Linked DNA regions of Homo sapiens: region 2 is reported to be linked to region 1. The links are microRNA targets in miRTarBase. Many come from high-throughput screens and were not tested one by one. Region 1 holds a microRNA gene; the other region holds the end of a gene's coding sequence.

What was found. Region 1 holds the annotated microRNA hsa-miR-500a-3p (AUGCACCUGGGCAAGGAUUCUG, at 1,431-1,452, shown strand). A microRNA usually pairs through its seed, bases 2 to 8, with sites in the 3' UTR of a target mRNA and lowers its output. Matches are read on the target gene's strand: a 7mer-m8 pairs with bases 2 to 8, a 7mer-A1 pairs with bases 2 to 7 and ends in A, and an 8mer does both.
Region 2: miRTarBase lists FDXR as a target of hsa-miR-500a-3p. The part of its 3' UTR that is shown has no 7-base or 8-base seed match.

The regions. Positions count from the first base shown.
Region 1 is chrX:50,007,052-50,012,121 of GRCh38, forward strand. MIR500A (microRNA 500a) reads left to right here and starts at 1,380; the gene lies at 1,380-1,463. All of the region lies in intron 3 of CLCN5 (chloride voltage-gated channel 5), which reads left to right. It overlaps MIR362 (microRNA 362), which reads left to right and starts at 1,913; the gene lies at 1,913-1,977. MIR501 (microRNA 501) reads left to right here and starts at 2,671; the gene lies at 2,671-2,754. It also overlaps MIR500B.
Region 2 is chr17:74,858,577-74,863,646 of GRCh38, reverse strand. It overlaps FDXR (ferredoxin reductase), which reads left to right. Exons shown (of 12, transcript NM_024417.5): 11 at 401-571; 12 at 700-1,150. The coding sequence ends at 830. GRIN2C (glutamate ionotropic receptor NMDA type subunit 2C) reads left to right here and starts at 3,762. Exons shown (of 13, transcript NM_000835.6): 1 at 3,762-3,903. RefSeq lists an enhancer at 2,237-2,935.

The DNA of each region.
Region 1 (5,070 bases):
CAGTGGGTGGTTCCTTCCTGCCCTAACTCTACTCTCTTTGCCCTCCCAGAAAGGGCAGTGAGCTGTCTCGGCATTCTTCCCTTAGGTAGCTGTTGAATGAAGATGCACTTCCTTGTTAATGTTCTCTCTCACAATCACAGATACACAAATACTCGTATATGCACATGTGCACAAGCAAGGCATACAGGAGAATGAGCATGCAAGGGAGGCCCACATGTGGCTGGGTGCCCAGCATATGCAGACATGTGAGCATACAGGGACAGGAGAGACAGGAGCCTTTTTGATTATACTCACAGGGCCAGATGCCCCCATCTTTACTCATTTTCTGTCTCTCTCTCTCTCTCTTTCTCTCTCTCTCTCTCTCTCTCTCTCTCTCTCTCTCTCTCTGTCACACACACACACACACACACACACACACACACAGAGAGAGTGGAACTTCTGATGTTTTCCTTCATATCCCTTATGTGAAGGGGCGTGAACTTTGTTGACCTAGGGAGATTGAAGGAGAACCTCATCAACTCACACGTGAGGAATTTAAGAGGATGAATCTGTGTATCCCCTTGTGCAGGCACTCACACTCACAGATACTCGGACCTCTTCTCTCTCACCTGTCCCTTGCATGCAGGAGTTTCACCATCCCCCTTAAAAATGCACATTCATTCAAACACATATATACATAAAAATAGAGAGTAAGAGGTAAAAATATTGACGGCTGTGTGCCAGGTACTATACTTTATTTCATTTTCTTGACACCATTTAAGAGGTAGGCTTTAAATTGTCCTCATTCTTCAAAAGTGTTTAACTTGACCTTGGGAAAATCAGGTCGATTCTCTAGGCTAATATGTGGTAGAGCGTGCATTTGAACCAAGGTTCGTAGATACCAAAGTGCCTGGTTTTTCCACTACATTAGTGATTCTCCCAGTGTAGTCCCTGGACCAGTAGCATCAGTATCACCTGAGAACTTGTTAGAAATGCAAATTCTTGGGTCTCACCCCAGACTCACCAAGTCAGAAACCTCTGTAACCTGTATATTACCCAGGTCTTCAGATGATTCTGGTGCATGTTAGAGAACAACTGTGCTAAACTGTACTGCCTTCTTGTTGCATAGTCACACAAAGCATTTGCGGGATCATGAGCTTTGGCGTTATATTCATTCTCTCTTTCCTCCCTTTCACACTCCTCTCTCCTCCCAGTCTCTTTATAGGTTTATACTTTTTTGTTGTTACTATCTGAGAGAACAGACAAAATGTGTGTTTAACTAGACATCTTTAATGCAAAGCTCAAGAACTGTTCTCTTTACTTCTATATCATGACAAGTAAGTACCTTGTGTGAAGAAGAATGAGCCCTCTCACTGAACATTCACAGGGCTTTGTGTTCTGCTCCCCCTCTCTAATCCTTGCTACCTGGGTGAGAGTGCTGTCTGAATGCAATGCACCTGGGCAAGGATTCTGAGAGCGAGAGCTTCATCTTCGTGTAGGACAGAGCGTCTTTCTGTCCTCCTATCATCCATTCCACAAGTATTTATTGACCACCTTTTCTGTATATGATACTAAGTTGAGTAATGAGCATACAGTTGCTAACAAGACATGCTTGGTCCCTACCCTCATGGAGCTACAGTTGAGGAAGAAGAATGGAATTCCTCATCATCCATTACACCTACATGCCCTGAGAGTGGGTGGGCCACAGAGTGGACTTCTCATTACCACTGTCACCCACAAACATACACAAAAGCATGAATCTTCTCTGATCTCACATGGAACTCTGCAGGAGAAAAGATTCTCTGCCTTTCTGTAAAGTCCCTAGTAAATGACACTGTATATACATGAGAGTGAGACTTGGTTATAGCTACACATGCACACATACAAACACACAAAAAGGGCAGGTGTCAGAGCCTTCTTGTCTGCTCCCCCTCTTGAATCCTTGGAACCTAGGTGTGAGTGCTATTTCAGTGCAACACACCTATTCAAGGATTCAAAGAGGCTGAGCCTTGTCTACATGTAGAAGGACCAACAACCTGTCCCCTTCTTTCACATGTTTGTGTTTGCTATGCGGTGCCAGATCCTGCACTGGGTGGTGGAGATACAACGGTAAATAAGACAGCTAAGGTCCCTGGGCTCTGTAGAGGGCACCTGTGGGAGAATGAACTTCATCATTGCCCTGGACAAGCTTACACCTCTTTGAGAGCATGAGCTTTCTGTTTACTCCCAGCTTACTATGTGTCAGATACTGTAATGGGGAAACACACATTGGGTGATGAGACTTGCACAGCCAGTCTTTGCTCTCAGTGAGCTTATAGTTTACCAGAGAAACAGAAGAGAATGAAGTATCCCAATTTTCTGTACCATCTTCCAACATGTGCATGTACATGTGTGCCCACATACAGTTTGTCCCAACCTCCTTGCTAGGCCCCAAATACATCCAGCACCTGCAGACCCTCAAGTGTGATCTGAAAAAGATGCCACTCATATCTTTCATTCTAGTCTGAGGTTTTGTCTGAGAGGGCATGTCCATGTGGCCTTGTGCAGGGGGATGAATACATATGCTATCCCTGAGGAGAGGCATCTGTCTTAGCAAATGCACACAGAGATACTTTGCAGGAATGGGACCATGAAAGTCAAATATATATGGAGATATACATGCAGGGTGCAGGTGCCTGAGTCTTCTGCTCTGCTCTTCCTCTCTAATCCTTTGTCCCTGGGTGAGAGTGCTTTCTGAATGCAATGCACCCGGGCAAGGATTCTGAGAGGGTGAGCCCCCTCTGCGTGGAGAACAGAAGATCTGTATGTCACCTCTCAGCTGCTTGCTGCTTGCCTGCCTGCTCTCTGACCCTCATTCATTCTTTCCTTCCACAAATAATATGTATTGGGCACCATGATGGGCATTGGACACAGAGAAATGAACAAGGCAGACTTCGCCCCTGCCTTCCTGGATATTATAGCCTGAGAGGAGAATGGACTTTGTCACCACTCATTGCCCCTGCATATACTGAGGGTGAGTGGGCCACATAGGAACTTCTTATCTACCCTCTTCCCACCTTAACCCACCCATAAGTGTGAGTCTTCTCATTCCTGCTGTCACATTGATACTTGTTTCTTGTTTTTTCCTTCTTTCCTTCCTTCCTTCTTTTCTTTTTCTTTCTCTTTCTTTTCTTTCTTTCCTTCCTTTCCTTTCCTTTCTTTTCTTCTCTCTTTTCTTTTCTTTCTTTTTTGATGGAGTATTGCTCTGTTGCTCAGGCTGGAGTGCACTGGCACCATCACAGTTCACTGCAGCCTCAACCACCTGGGCTCAAGCGATCCTCCCACCTCAGCCTCTCAAATAGCTGGGACCACAGGCTTGTGCCACCATGCCTGGCTAATTTGTGTTTATTTTTTGTAGAGATGGGGTCTCACTATGTTGCCCAAGCTGGTCTCAAACTCCTAGGCTCAAGCAGTCCACCAGCCTTAGCCTCCCAAAGTGTTGGGATTATAGGTGTGAGCCACTGCACCCAGCCTGATACTTGTCGAAGCAACTTCTCTCTACTTTAGTTCAATGCAAGGTTAATGCACTAGGCAAGAACAGCAAGCCTTCTTGTTAGATGCACATGTGAGGTGTACAGGTACTGGAATCTCCTGTCCTGGTTCCCCCTCTCTAATCCTTGCTACCTGGGTGAGAGTGCTTTCTGAATGCAGTGCACCCAGGCAAGGATTCTGCAAGGGGGAGTGACATCTTCGCATAGGACAGAGCACTTCTACCTCCTCCTTCCATCCTTTCTATGACTATTTGTTGAGTACCTACCTACTCTATTGCAGGTGCTGTCCTGGGCAGTTGGCCCACAAGAGAATGAGCCATATCTGGTTCCCTACCTTCATGGAGTGTACAGTTCAGGGAGGAGAATGGACTCCTTCTCATTCATTATATCTGCATGTCCTGAGGGTGGGTGGGGTACAGGGTGGGTGGGGTACAGATACATGTTGGAGAATCTACTAAACCTCAGTACAATCACACATAAATACGCTGTGTGCAAGAGAAAGGGCCTGACTTGGTTACATCCACAGAGACATGTCCTCACAGAGTGGTCCCTCTGACCTGGTGCATCACTCACATTCTTTCAGCCTGTGTGCCAGTACTGCCTTGACTCACTGTCCCTTTTCAAGAATTCCAAGGGAAGAAGCCTTGTCTACACTTAAAAGGACAGAGCTTTTGCACATCAACTCTCCCTCCTCTTCCTTCCACAGATACTCAAGTGTCTATTAGACAGCAGGTATTATGTTCATCACCAAGGATATAGCAGGGATCAAAATGGACAGGTTGCTACCCTACATTCTGGTAGGGACTCATAAACACACTATACATAAATGTTGTGGATGAATAGGCCACTGTTCAAAAGAATGAAGTAGATCTATATGTTCCTTGTTACCCAGTCTGCATGCACAAGCATGTGCAGGTTCTGCTCAAGTGAAATTCTCAAATGTCCCCAATCCTTGTACACCAGACACACTCAGAGACATGGCCCTGCATGCAGAGAACCCCACCTACTGAAAGGGTAGGAGATGGAGCCTGTTGTGCTCTCCTCTCTCCCATTCTCAGCGTGCAAGCCAGTGAGCTTCCTTAACTCCCTTATAGATGGGGATTAAATGAGGGAAGTCTTCTTACTGCTACTTTCCTTCTTGCTGCTCTGTATAGGAGAGATCCTTTCATTACTTTTCTGTACAGTCACAGATGAACACACTATATGCGGTGAGCCTTCCCTGTAAACCCATGTGAGCACATGTGCACACACGCACACGTGCACACACACATACTCTGTATGGCTGCTTGGGCCTTCAGTCCTGTTCCCCCTCTTGAATCCTGGTACCTGGATGCAAGTGCTGTGTCAATGCGGTGCACCCAGGCAAGCATTCCACGGCTGAGCCTTTTCTGCATAGAGCGAAGAACACCTGTTTATAATCCCCATCCTTCATTCATTCCCACCTTTAACAAGCAGGGGTGGCGCTCCTGTCATGCACCAGACATGGAGAGACAGGGTGGTCAAGAAAGACACAGAACTCATACTCACATGCCTAGTGAGCATGTTTAAGAGAAGGAACTTC
Region 2 (5,070 bases), not on the chromosome of region 1:
GGCCCTGTGCTTAGTGCTGGGATTGGAGATTAATAAGGCAGCCTGTGTCCTCAGGGAGCTTCCAGTTTTACTAAGTGCCCACATACCTATCTAGTGATTAATTCACTTGGTAAACATTTACCAAGGGCCTACTGAAACTGCAGGGGAGCAAGCCTCAGCTCCTAAGCTTAGGGATCCCCTCATCTACAGGGAAACTGAGGTGTAAGGGGGTCGGCCTGGTAAAAACAGGGAGAGAAGAATCCAGGGCAGTGGACCAGCGGCCACAGCAGGCTCAGCCGACAGTCTGCCAAGAGGCGTGGGGTGTCTGTGTGCGTGCACGTGGGTGTAGATTGTGGGCACAGGATGGCCAGGGTGGTATCCAGCCACCTCCCTCCCTTCCCCTTTTGTTACCCCCTCTCAGGCCTCTACTGCAGCGGCTGGGTGAAGAGAGGACCTACAGGTGTCATAGCCACAACCATGACTGACAGCTTCCTCACCGGCCAGATGCTGCTGCAGGACCTGAAGGCTGGGTTGCTCCCCTCTGGCCCCAGGCCTGGCTACGCAGCCATCCAGGCCCTGCTCAGCAGCCGAGGTCTGGGCCCCGATGCTGAGGTCCTGGGAGGTGGGGTGGGTGGTCCTTCTCTGGGCCTCACTCTTTGGGAGGGGGCTGTTCTGGGAGGGGTGAAGGAGGAGGTGTTGACAATCTCCCCTCTGCTTCAGGGGTCCGGCCAGTCTCTTTCTCAGACTGGGAGAAGCTGGATGCCGAGGAGGTGGCCCGGGGCCAGGGCACGGGGAAGCCCAGGGAGAAGCTGGTGGATCCTCAGGAGATGCTGCGCCTCCTGGGCCACTGAGCCCAGCCCCAGCCCCGGCCCCCAGCAGGGAAGGGATGAGTGTTGGGAGGGGAAGGGCTGGGTCCGTCTGAGTGGGACTTTGCACCTCTGCTGATCCCGGCCGGCCCTGGCTTGGAGGCTTGGCTGCTCTTCCAGCGTCTCTCCTCCCTCCTGGGGAAGGTCGCCCTTGCGCGCAAGGTTTTAGCTTTCAGCAACTGAGGTAACCTTAGGGACAGGTGGAGGTGTGGGCCGATCTAACCCCTTACCCATCTCTCTACTGCTGGACTGTGGAGGGTCACCAGGTTGGGAACATGCTGGAAATAAAACAGCTGCAACCAAGAGCCATGGTTGATGGGGGACTTTTTTTGGAAGGGTTGGGGTCGGGGGTCACCTTCTGGCCGTAGCTCCCCTACCATCACCAGGTGGCGCTGCAGAGACGGCTCCCTGCTCAGGGGCCTCATTGGGGGCTTGATGGGGCTCGGCAGCCAGGCCTGGCATAGCCACCCTTCCTTTCTCCGCTCGGCCCTGCTGTGGCTGCGGGTTGCCTGTCTTCTGTCCACACTAGGGCTGCCCGGGACCGGGACCGGGACCACCCCTCCCTGGGGAGCCCTCAGTACAATCAAAACAGAAAAGAAATGGGAGCGGGGGACTGAGAAGCAGCTTGTCCCCTGTACCTCTGGGTGCCCCAGGCGAGTCTAGCCTGGGGCCCATTCTTTGGCTCTCAAAGCCTTCCTGCTTCCGTTTCCAGTCAGACACACTGGCCTTTAAAAATAGTGCCTCAGTCTCCCTAGGGCTTTGCAGTGTCCAGAGAGTGGTCACTCCCTTTTATGGCAGCCCTCAAGATGCTGCCTCGCTGTATAACCTGAGGGGTCCTCGAAATTGGCCCAAGGTCACACACTCGTGAGCTGCGGGCTCAAACCCAGGCTCCGGGCAGGCTGGTGTGTCCTCCGAGGCGCACTTGCCCCGAGTGTCAGGTCTGGGGACGCGGTTCCGGAGAGGGGAGAGGGGCCCGGGAATGCGGCGGGAGGGGCCTCGAGGGGCAGCGGGCCGGGCCGGGCCGGGGCGGAGGTGGCGGGCCCCGGCGGGGCGGGCCCTCGCGGGCGGCGGTGAGAGCTCCCGCACAGTCGGCTGCGAGCTCTGGGAGCAGGAGGCGCGGTGCGCAGCCCAGCCCGGGACGGAGCCGGGCGCCGTGCGAGCTTCGGGAGGGTCGCGGGGCGCAGGGGCGGGTCGGGGCCAGCGGACCAGGCCGCGCCACCCGCCCCCGCCCCCGCCCCGCCGCGCCCGGGCTCCGGCGCCCGCGGAGCTGAGACTGAGCGCGCCAGCCCTCCGGGGCCGAGGCTCTGGGACAGACACCGCGAGGGAGGCGGCCGGCGCGGGCTCTCGTCGCGGGCGCAGCGCCCCTTCCCCTCGGTAAGTGGCGAGCGGCGGGCGAGGGGCACCAACTTCGCCGCCAACTTGGGGCTGGGTTCCCGCGGCGCGCGAGCAAGGACGGCGGAGACAGAGGCGGGACACCCGGGGGGTTGGACCCACGCAGGACTCTCGGGGCTCAAGGAGGGGGCGGCTGGAGGACCCGGACCCTCAAGAACCTGGCCTTGGGTTTTGACCCGGGCGGCCGGAGAGAAGGCGAAGAAGAGGCCGAGCAGACAGGCGCGCGGCGGACGCGAGAGAAGGACGCGGGCGAAGCGTCCAAGACGTTCGTCCCCAGGGTCGCCGAGCCCTCCTCCTCCTTCGCTTGGCGCGGCAGCACCGCGGGACCAGGGGAGTCTGGGCTGCCGCGGACCCAAACTGTTGCTGCTGGAAGCCGCCGGGGCGGAGAGCGGGGAACAGGGCCGGGAGTGGGGGCCGGGGCTGGGATCCACCAGAGCGAGGGGTTGGAAAGGAGTCGAGAAGGTGAAAGGGGGCTGTGCGGCTCCCCAGCCCAGTGCCCCAGTTTCCCTAGGTCTGCTGGGCACCTGCTGCGCACTCGCCTCGGCGCCCAGACCCCTTCCCCCGCCGCGAGTCCCGCTTCTTCCCCTTCCAGCTCTGCCCCATCTCCTTTGCCCCAGCCTAGCTCTCTCCTTCCTGCGACCTGGGAGAATCGGAGTGGGCTTCCAGAGTAGTGGCATCTTGCAGATGCTGGCCCGTGCCCGGCTCCCGGGCTTCCAGAGCGCAAAGGGAAGGGTAGGCAGAGAGGGCACTGGGCGAGCAAGACCTGGCGCTGGGCCCTGGCTGCGCACCAGCCGCCTGCGCCGGTCTCTGGGGGCTTCGCCCAGGATCCCCGACGGCGGGGAGGGGAAGCCCCGAGTCTCCTGTTTCCTGCCTACGCGGGCAGGGCGGGGACACGCGGAGCAAAGGCACCCGGCAACCTGAACCCCCAGGTGCGTCCCGCGACCCTGCAAGGAGCTGCTGGGTGAGCAAGACGGGAATTCCCGCCAGGCCCTGATGCCCACCCCATTCGTCCACTCGGTTTCCCAGCCCTGGTCGTCCAAGGGGACTTCTGGCTCGGTCCCCCAGCCCTCGGATGGTGGCGTTATCTTAGTTCAGTCCCTGACCCCGGGCCACAGGAAAATCGAGGAAAGACACTTATTTGGGGAGGGTACCATTCCGCTGGCTGTATTTCAGAGCCCGTCCAGGTCTTGGCGGTGCTAGTGACTTTGAGCCTGTTTCTAAACTCCCGAAGAATAAGAGCGTGCCAGGGGCAGGTAGGCAGGTCCGGGACACCTGGGTTCGCCCAGGGCCCCCGGGCGGGCCTGGGATGGTACTGGGGCCGCCTGCCAGGCTGGCTTGGTCCCCCCACTGCGGGACTCGGGGTCACGACCCAGCTTGGGGGAGTGGGGGTGGGGGCCCCGGAGCCGCGGACGCCGGCGGGGGGCAGCGTGGGGCGGGGGGCGCCGGGTGCGTGGTGCTCAGCTTGGCCGCCAGGAGGCGTGGCGCGGGTCCCCGCCCGGAGCCGCCGCCGCCGCCGCCGCCGCCGCATCGCGAGTGTCCTTGAGCCGCGGGTGACGGTGGCTCTCGCTGCTCGCGCCCCCTCCTCCCGCGGGGGGAGCCTGATGCCACGTTCCCTATGAATTATTTATCGCCGGCCTAAAAATACCCCGAACTTCACAGCCCGAGTGTAAGAGATTGCTGCGGAGGGGAGGGGGCGGGGCGTCCCGGTGGCCAGGGGGAGTCCGGGCGGGGTCCGCGGAGACGGGGGCCGTAGCCTTGGAGGAGCAAGAACTCCGTGCCCCCAGCAGTGGGGCAAGCTAGAACGGCGGTCCTCTCCCCTGGCGCCTGGGTTCGGGTTTTGGCTGGGCAAAAGGGAGGGAGGGAAACCCGACGGCAAAGGAGGGGCGGCTCACCGGAAGGGCAGGGGGTCCGGGGGTTCTGCTGGTGGGTGGGGAGGACTCCTGCGACAGAGTTTCCTAGCCTGGGAGAGGGAGAGCCATCGGTATCTCAGATGTGAGCGGGTATGAGTGCGGGAGTGTGCATGTGTGTGCAGGTCCGTGCCAGGGGGTCTGGCTGAGCTGTGAGGACCCGGGAAGGAGAAGGCCCCCAGCCTGGGAAGGTGCTCAGACCCTTCTAGATGCTGCTGTGTCCTGCAGGACTGACCACTGCCATCCTCTCTGGGGCTCTTTGGGGATCTCTGTGTTTGTCAAACATTAGTTTAAGGGCTGTTTGTGGAAGGGGTGAGACCCTGAGTGGGTGGGTGGGCAGAGGTCTCTGAGACAATGTGTCTGCCCTCAAGGAGCCCGCAGTCCAGTGTGGGGCAGGGTGTTAATGAGTGCACACACACCTGCCGCAGGGCAGAATGGAGGGGTGGAGGGGACCACTACACAGAGCTCCCCACCCAGGAGGGGAAGCCAGGGCAGGGGGAAGAAGGGCAGGTGCCCCAGCCTGGCCGCAGTCCCTGCGCCTAGAGCCTGAGGCATCAAGGCAGGTGCCTGTGGGAGAGGGATTTCAGCTGGGCCCTGAAGGAGAGTAGACTTCTGTTGGGATGAGGACATTCCAGCCTGGGGGATGCTGGAACGAGGCCTGGAGATGAGGGCAGAATGGGGCTGTTTGGCCAGCAGACTGGCAGAGCTGTGGGTTCCAGGGATGGGAGGACGGTTGGTTGCGGTCAGGGTGCAGAGGGCTCTGTCTATGGGACTAAGCTGTCTGGACTTCATTTGTGGGCACCAGGGTGTAGCTGTCCTGTGTGAGGAGGGAGCAGTGGCTGGAGGAAGGCTTCAGCAGTGCAGTGGGGCTGGCGGGGGTGGGTAGGTGGGAGGTGGGGAGGGGGAGGCAAGGGAGGAGATTGTGG